Regions from separate parts of the Homo sapiens genome. Here region 1 is linked to region 2. The links come from fine-mapping of genetic effects on gene expression. Tissue or cell type: whole blood. Region 2 holds a variant in brackets; the other region holds the start of a gene. All regions are shown on one strand. Distances are between the middles of the regions.

Region 1 (4,392 bases), 53 kb after region 2:
TAGAGAAAAGCCACTTTACATCCAGTAACTATTACCCCCTCATTTGGGAGCTGTCAAGCTAGTACATTTAATTACACAAAAGATCCTTGGCTGTTGATTGTCCATATTCACGGTGAATGACAGTAATGACATCACCAAAGGATGCCTTTTGGTGGTGGAGGAGACAGGAGACTGGGCTTAGTAGGAGCTCTCCAGATAGGCTCGTCAGTCAGTCCTATGCAGAGAGACCCAAGGCTCCACTTGAGAACTGTGCTTTCTCTTCTGAAAAGCCATTCATCCTTCCTTCTCTTCCCTCTGAGTGGATTACTGGGTGGGTGGGGAAGGGGGTTGCCCTCCTAGAACACAGAAGTAAGGGTCCAGAACTTAACACTGTTCAGGAGCAAACTTTCCCCCACCAGCCATGGGGGAAAGCATCAAATGCTGAGCTCTTATTAGACCCAATCAGATGGAATTTTCAGCAGGTTCTTTCTTCACACTTTTTAGGAGGGTAAAAAGTAACAGGAAGCAAAGGAGATGACGAGAAAGAAGAAAACATCCAAACCTAACATTGGTCTGGGGAGAGATTCCTTGTGGAACATCAGCAGGCGCTTGCATCTGGGCCAGACAATGTAGGGGCCCCCAAGGCCACTCTGCAGACATCACTGAGCCCCTGTAGCAAAGACCAGGGTCCAGAATGAAGATGCACAGCTCAGTCCTCAAGCAGCTCCCTTCAGGCAGGGGAGCTCAGCACCTGAGGAATGTCCCAGAAGCAAGATGTTCCCTCTGTGTCCTAGAGACTTGGGTGCAGACAGAAACTCACATATGATCAGGTCATATGATCAGGTCTTGCCTTCCAGTTTGAGCCTAGGTTGGATAAGTAGAGGAGTGTCAAGAAGAGCAGTGGGGATTTGCATGCATGGGGAAGGCCAGGGCTGGAGGCGAGATGGACTTTCCCTGTCTCCTAAAAAACTGAAAAATAAACATAAGAGAAAGGAAGGAGGAAGAGAGAAAGGGAAAAAGAGAGGGACCAAAAAAAATAGCATCCATTTGAAATAGATGGTTTTAATGATTGTATTGCAATGTCATGCACGACATTGTGAATGTAATTAATACCACTAAAAATAGTTAAAATGGCAAGTTGTATGTTATGTAACCATTTTAAATGATGTAATATGCCAAAAATCACAGTGTGCATTTTAAATGAAGGAATTATATGGTATCTGAATTTATATCTCAATAGAGCTGTTTTTAGAAGGTGGTATCCACAAGCAAGCATGTGTGTGTGCACGTGTGTTGGAGTACATTCACATGCACATGTGTGTGTGGCAAGAGTGTCAGTTTCCTAGCTAATCTACTTTGGGTGGAAACTGTCAGTGATGACTAGGCAAAGGTGGAGAAGAGAAATGTAACCTACCTGTCCATTGTTCACTGGTGCCCTCGAGAAAGAGAGAAAGAAGTATGACAAATGCTAAAATAATATGATATTATAAGCTTCACATATTTTTATAAGGGGGAGTATTCTCCACCACAAATTCCACGCCTGGTTTCCCGTTCTCAATACACTTTGTTTACAGAGTCAGTCTCATGAAAGCTGTGGCATGAATTATCAAGCTGAAGCTCCTATTTTCCCCTTGAAATATGCGCTTGTGCTTAGGAATGCAGCATCTCTCTTCCAATTATACCTTGGCGCCAGAGTCCCTTTTCCTGGAAGTACACCTCCAATGTCAAGAGGGTGTGGTGCAGTGGAGATGATGCTGTGTCTGGGTCAAAGACCTGCCTCCCTGCCTAGGAGACCTTGAGCAGTCATTGCCTGGACGTCTTTGACCATAAAATGCAGATGATGATGATGCCTCCCTTGCCTTCTCCCTGGAGTAGCGTGCGAAGCAAAATCCAAACAGGATAACATGTGAAAGCGTTCAGTAAACTGTGAATCACTGCCTTAGTGGAAACTATTCTGGATGCACGTAATAGAAACCCAATCAAGTAAGCAAAAAGGAAGACACTGAGTTGAAAGGAGACTGGGATACCTCTCGGAAACTATGGCAGGAGGTGAGGCTGGATCCAGAACCCGGGTCTGGAGAGCGGGGAATGCAGGCAGCTCACTCCCGTGGCTTCTCGCTGCTTTTCCATCTGTTTTCATCTCTGTCTCTCTCTCTCCAGAGTGGCTTCCATTGTTCTGGCTTGCAGGGCCAAGCAGGGATACCCCATGGCTCCTGTGACTACATAGCCTTCATTCAAGCCATGAGCCCAGACGTCTACGCCAGGTCCTAATTCAGTTGGTTCAACTGGGCTGGGTGTGGACACGTGTTGTCCAGTGAGTCATGAATATGGATAGGGGTCACACAGAATAAACTTGACCATTCTTTGTCCATCCTGTGGGTGTGAGCTGGGCAGGTACCAGGAGAAGTGCCTTCTACAAACATTTGGCAACATCTAGTGGTGTGATTACAATAGTCAGCGAAAGAGGAAGATTCAATTTTGAGGACCTCCTTTCCTAGTGTCCCCATCTTTGCTGCCTTCTGTGAGTTTGATCATGTGGACTCCATGGAGGTTGGCCACTGCTGGGCAATGCAGCCAAACAAAGTGAGCAAAAGTAGGCTGGAGGGCTCCGTGGGTGACTGGGGCTAGGCTGCCTCTGGTGCCCCAAGAACCCTGAAGCCACCTTGCAGCTCTTCTGAAATGGTGAGTGGACTGCTGTTCTTCTTGTGCCAAGGTGTCCATGTTGCCTTTCTCACAAAATGTATTGCAAATAAGAGTGGGTACAAGTCATAGAAACCCATTCCAAGCTAGCTTACATAAAAAGGAGACCATTCTGGGGCTGCTTTTCCAGATCCCTCAGTCCTTTCTCTCCTGCTGCCCTTTGAGCCATTCCACTGTTTCCAGCTCTCTGGAGACAGGCATGGTGAGGTCTGCATTGATCTCCCCCCATGAAATGAAGGAGAATATGCTAAACTAGTGGCTGCTGATTTTTCCCCCTTCTTTTTCTGTCATTGCCTGTGGTCTGCAATTACCCATTCCCCTCTTGGCCTTCAGAGCTGTGCGAGGGTGAGCAGGTGTTGAGAGCAACTTTGTTCTTTTTGAGTCAATTTCATTACGTGGAGAGGATCCAACTCTCTCCGTGTAGCTGGCAGCTCCCAAGGCCAGACCACTGGGCAGGGCTCCCAAGAGCAGTGCTAGCCTCTTTGGTGTCACAAAGGGCCAGGCCAGGCCTGTTCATCTCTTTCCCCAAGAGCAAGCTGCTTTTTGAGCAGATGTACAAACAATTGGATGCCTCTGATAGACTGCAGTTCTGTAAGGTTGCAATCCTACCAGCCCTGCAGAGAAGTAAAAAGAAAAGCTCCAAACTGAGGCCTCTCAATTCTGCCGTCTTTCAGACTTTCCTGCGTTCTCACAGGTGGGCCAGCAACTAACCATGGGCCAGTAGGCCTGTCCCCTGCACTGTAGAAGATGCTGGTTATGGGATGTATAGGTGGAAGAGGGAAGGGAGCCATGCAGAACACCCAGGCCTTTTCCTTGCCCAGAACTTAACTGGGCAAACACATAACAGATCCCTGCAGCATTTAACCCTTAAGGATTAGCCCTTAAGAAGCTACAAAGGTAAACAAGTACATGATTACATTCAGGCTAGTTGCTGAATAATAATAGCATCTGTTCCTGGCACCATACTAATCAGTTTACATTTGTCAATTCACACAGCAAATAAGTGACAGAGCCAGGATCTGAACCCAGACAGTCACTACACAAACTTCCTCCCACATTATCAGCCTCTCACAATGCAAACAAAACACTGACACAGAATGCGATCGTCTTTGCTCTTGTGTACTTGTGGTAATTTGCGTGATTGAAAGATACCATTAGGAAGAAGAAATGTTTTAAATATCTAACCCCTGGAAAAGCAAGATTTAGAGACTAAAAATTTCATGACCCATCCGAAGCTCAGCAGTCAAGTTTGCAATTCTGCCAACTTCCCGCAAGAGTAAAACTGGCTGTTCTCACTGCTGTTAATAGAGGAGGACCATGACCTTGATGTACAGGTGGTGGGAGGGTGGGGCATTATTTAAGCAATGGGATCTGATGGGGGGTGCTGGAAAATGAACAAAAGTGTGAATTATTCCACAGCTGCTCACCCTGACGTTTATTGTGACTTTAAAATCTGAGAACATATGGTAACGGCTGGAAGCATGAAATAGCAGTTGGAAACGTGTAGACTTAAGGAAAAACCAGCCACCCTTATACCTCCCCACTTGGCTTCTCTGTAGAATGCTGTTGTCTTGCTAGCCTTTTTCGCTCCCAAATCTGAAGAAAGCCCTGGAACAAATGTCCCCTTTTCTTCAGCCCCATCCCCCCATGCATCTGCAAGAGCTTTTCCCCCTCCTGTGACAGAAGTTAGTGTTTTGATTCTTGGCTATGGTA
Region 2 (4,392 bases):
TCTTCAGCTTACAATGTTTTTGCCGGACTGGATCTATTTGATCTTCCAACAAGCCCAAGAAGGAAGAAAGGCAGACATTTTTATTTTTACTTGCACCATTTTGAAATCAGGTTGCCAAAGCTCAAAAGCTCAAGGCAGCTGGTACTTATTCAAAGTCAACAAGCCCCTTTGGCTGGGGAGACCCCCTGACTCTTCCCATTCTCAACCCAGTGTTTTCTGGTTTTAAAGATGTAAAACTTCTGGCCGGGCGCGGTGGCTCATGCCTGTAATCCCAGCGCTTTGGGAGGCCGAGGTGGGTGGATCACCTGAGGTCAGGAGTTTGAGACCAGCCTGGCCAACATGGTGAAACCCCGTCTCTACTAAAAATACAAAAATCAGTCGGGCATGGTGGCAGGCACCTGTCATCCCAGCTACTCTGGAGGCTGAGGCAGGAGAATCACTTGAACCTAGGAGGTGGAGGTTGCAGTGAGCTGAGATCACACCACTGCACTCCAGCCTGGAAGACAGAGTGAGACTCCATCTCAAAAAAAAAAAAGGAAAAGAAAAAGATGTAAAACTTCTGCAGATGGACGATGCAAGGGTAGTGGTCAGCTCTTTAATCTGCACATTTTAGAATCCAGTTTTGCTCAAAGTAAGTAATAAGGTGGGCGAAAAACAGAACAGAGCTGAGTTTAAACCACACATCTGCTTGCCAGCTACACAGCCTCCATGCTCTCATTTATAGGATAGGCGAAGAAATTCCTACCTTCTAGTGTTGTTGCAAACATGAGAGGCTGCAGAAGAGTTCATAATGCAAGTGGGTAAAGCATAAGAGGCACTCTATAAATGGCAGCAATTATTATTAATTTGGTTTATTAAGAGAAACCATAGAATGTACACACCATTAACCATCTGTGGTAGGTGCTCTCTGCCTCTCAGTACTGCTCAGGATTTCTGAGGCCTAATTTTCTCCTGGCAGCACTAAGGGAAACCAAGGAGTTAACAAGGAGGCCTGGAGGCTGGCATGGCTGGGACTGTTAGTTCCTAATGAGGGGCCGGCCCGAGGAGGAGGCCTAGCAGCTGTGAGGAGGGGCGCTGAGGGTGTCTCCCATGGAGGAGACTTGGGCTGGAAACTTTGTTTTTCTTATTTCTGAACTCGGTTTTACACTCCTGAGGGGAGTTCCTAGTGTCTGGACTTGGTCTTTGAGCCCTGGCGCTGGTGGTTCCCTGAGGAAATGCCTCGCGGCTTCTTATGGGGCAATGTTGTTATTGATGTTGGGCCAAGGTGGTTAGAAAATGGGATCCTCCAAATGGGGGCCTTGTGGTTTGGCCACACGGAGATATCTCCACAAGCACAGCCGGGGTGGGGACAGCTGCCCACAGGGTAGGGCTTGAGGGTAACGTGGTGCTTCTCCTCGGCCGCCCCATCCTCTCCTGTCCTTGGCATTATTCTTACATGTCGCCTGTATTCTGGCTTCAGACTCTGCTGAGAGAAACGCGCTGTGTTAGGGCCAGCTGGGCCCTGAGCAGACTCCTGAGAGCCAAAAAGCAGGGAGACCAGGGTGCCAGGGGCACTCTGGAGAGTGAGAGGTGCTCAGAGTGACAGCACCCATGGGGGGTAGAGATGCCAGGCTGAGAAGAGGGAGAGGGAGAGGTAGCTCTACCTGGAGCAGGCCCCAGTAACCTCCACCCCCTCTAGAGGCAGAGGCTTCCGTGACCCCCAGGGTCAGCCCTGTCCCCCTCAGCCCTCGGTGGTCTCCCCTCCAGCACCCCAGGTGGTTGGCTATTTCCACATTGTGCCTACCAGACAGCTGTGGCAGGTGCTTTAAATATGTCTGTGGAGTGGTTGAAGAAATC[T/C]GAAGAAAAGAGGGAAGTCTGATGGTATCTCCAAGGTGACTTGGAGGGGCTCTGGGAAAGGATCTGCCCACTCTCCAGCTTCGCCATGATGGGTAGGCTCTCACAGGAGTGTGGCGGGTAACCGCCCTCACTCCTGGCCTTTGAGTTTCATTTCCGGTGAGTTTCTCCTTCCTTTTTATTCCAACTCTTCCTGGAAGCAGTGAGTGCTGGTTTAGTTTTAGGTACACATAACATTTGTCTTCATAGCCCCCACAGATGCAAGAGGCCTCATCCCTGTTCTGTGTCCCCTCTGGGTAGGCTCATGTGTGCAGAAGGCAGCCTGGGAAAGCCCGTTCACGGAGCTCACTTTGCTTGTTCTTTATCGTGGCTTCATGCCTCCCATTTGATGCTGCAGGTAAGAGGGCTCATGACCATATAAAGCAAATTGGGTGCCGGCTGTTACAAAGGGGAGGCTGCAAAGAAACAAAAGCATTTCAGCCAAGTAAATGCCCAGAATGTGCTGGGGAGTGGGGAAGGGAGGGGATAACATAAAGCCCCTGTCCCAAGGATGCAGCTTATGCCCCCTGGTCTAATGTGGGAGGGGGACGGTAATGATAATATAGTGTGAGAAGAGCTAGGACACGGTGAGTGACTGACAAGTGACCCAACGGGCAAAGCCAATGGCCCCCTCCACGTTCCACCCCCTGGGCATGAGCACCCTCTCCCATCTTGCCCCTTGATTTGTTGTGTCCTTGCCTGTTGCCTTGGGCAGGCTGACTTCTCTCCTTCCACACAGGGAGGTGGGCAGGAGGATGCCAGGAGCCCGTGTGACATCCAGCTGGGCCAGTGAGCCATTCGGTGGGTTCGCAGCAGTTTTGATGATCACCTGTCCATTTGTCAATGCTTTTCCTCACCCTCATTGCCTCAGAGGCTGTTAGTGTATGGAACTGTGATGCATATTCTATTATCTTCCCAGGGAATTACCTCAACGTTGGCCAGAGCTTAGCATTCTTAGCCACACGGGGCTCTGGAGGTATTTTTGGCGCAACTCGGAACTCCTGAGTGTCCATGCACTCTAGACTCGGGCTAGGATGCGAAGTAGGGATAAAGCAGATGTGGCGGGTGTGGCATGTCCCATGGACCCAGGCTTGGCCTTGCGTCCCCTTCTCCCTGAAGCCCGTTCCTCCCACTTGCTTCCTGGCTCCTTGGCCTCCCGCTGTCGTCACCCTCTGAATCCTTTCTTCTCCTCCCCACCGAGCAGGCAGAGGGAGGCAACTCTCATCACAGCTCAGGCCAGAGAGAGGAGTCCTAGGCCCTTGCTATTTTCAGAGCTAAAATTAAAGCCCATGGTTTGCTTCCTCAGCACTTAATTAGACTCCAGCGCCTCACAGGGCAGCCTCCTTCCCGCCCACCAGTGAAGGCCTGACCGGTGGGTTTGGAAGCTGACGCCATGTTCCTGGCAGGAGGGCTGGGGCCTGGGGTATTTTTACATATGAGAGGCTGTGGAGAGCAAAATGCTTGGCACTGAGCCAGTTAGACTAAATCAGTTGGGAGAGGGAGGGAGCAGGAAAGCTGTTATATCGTCCTTCCTTCTTTGAACTGCACTATAAATCTGCTAGACAGGAAATGGGATTGGGAGGGTAGAGGAGGGGGCTGTACAGTGAGGCTGGACTGGGGCCTGGGATACCACCACCCTCGCAGCCTGGCTCAGGTGAGGCCCTGCCCTGAAGGTGGGGTGAAGGGGGCCTCACTTGGGGCTGGGGGTGAGGCACACTGGTGGGTGTTCAGAGTTGTCTGGGTCAGCTAGGGTATGGGCTGACTGTATCTGCCCTCGTGTTATTTCTGGGCCCCTTCAGATCCTCCAACTAAAACCACCATCGGTGGAACAGCTTTTAGGACTGGAAGAGACTTCAGAGACCCTGTAATTAGGGTTTTGAGGACAAGAGAGGGAAAATAAATTACCCAAAGCCACATACCTTATGAGAACTGGAAGTGGGGATGGGACTTTTGACCTAGGACACGATGGCTGTGCACTGGCTCTCTCCCCTTCTTATTGCTGTCTCTTGGCTTTCTTGGGGGCACAAACTTTTCATTCCAGAGTAAAGGTAAGATATAAAATGCAGATGTATGTAAGTAAAATGACATACAGTCAATTCACACTAAGAGCTAAATAATTGATATTTAGCACTGTTACTGAGTAGAGATTTTGATGAGCAGAAGGCCCCTGTGCTCCGTGGAGGTGTCCTTCTGACCGTAAGGGTGGTGAGGCATCATTGACTTCATAATCAACCTAAGGCCATCTGGCCTCAGGGTTTCTGGAGGGGGCAGGTGGGGGAAGTTGAGACCTGGGATGTACCTGAAACAGAACCTGCTCCCTCCCAGGGAAGAGTGAAAACAGGACACCTGACTAATGACATCTCATATTTATCAATTTACAGCATTTCTCCAGAAAGGTCTAGATACCAGCCTTAGGGGAACCTCATTATTGTTGGATTAAACTTATGCCTACCCATGCATCTATAAGCCAAGGAACCTCTCCTGTTTTTTATCTCTCCTTTTCCCTCCTATAACACTCCT

Evidence for each region. PIP is the estimated chance that this variant, and not a neighbour inherited with it, causes the effect. A credible set is the group of variants that fine-mapping cannot tell apart.
Region 1: LINC00222 starts here. The variant in region 2 is the best candidate, but not a certain one, in a credible set for the expression of LINC00222 in whole blood (TOPMed, PIP 0.59).

Annotation. Positions count from the first base shown.
Region 1 is chr6:108,749,189-108,753,580 of GRCh38, forward strand. It overlaps LINC00222 (long intergenic non-protein coding RNA 222), which reads left to right and starts at 2,466. Exons shown (of 5, transcript NR_033376.1): 1 at 2,466-2,661.
Region 2 is chr6:108,696,567-108,700,958 of GRCh38, forward strand. No RefSeq gene overlaps it. Among named protein-coding and RNA genes, the nearest start is that of LINC00222, 53 kb to the right of the region's middle. RefSeq lists enhancers at 2,009-3,208, 2,436-3,242. The variant T/C (reference allele first, on the strand shown) is at 1,837.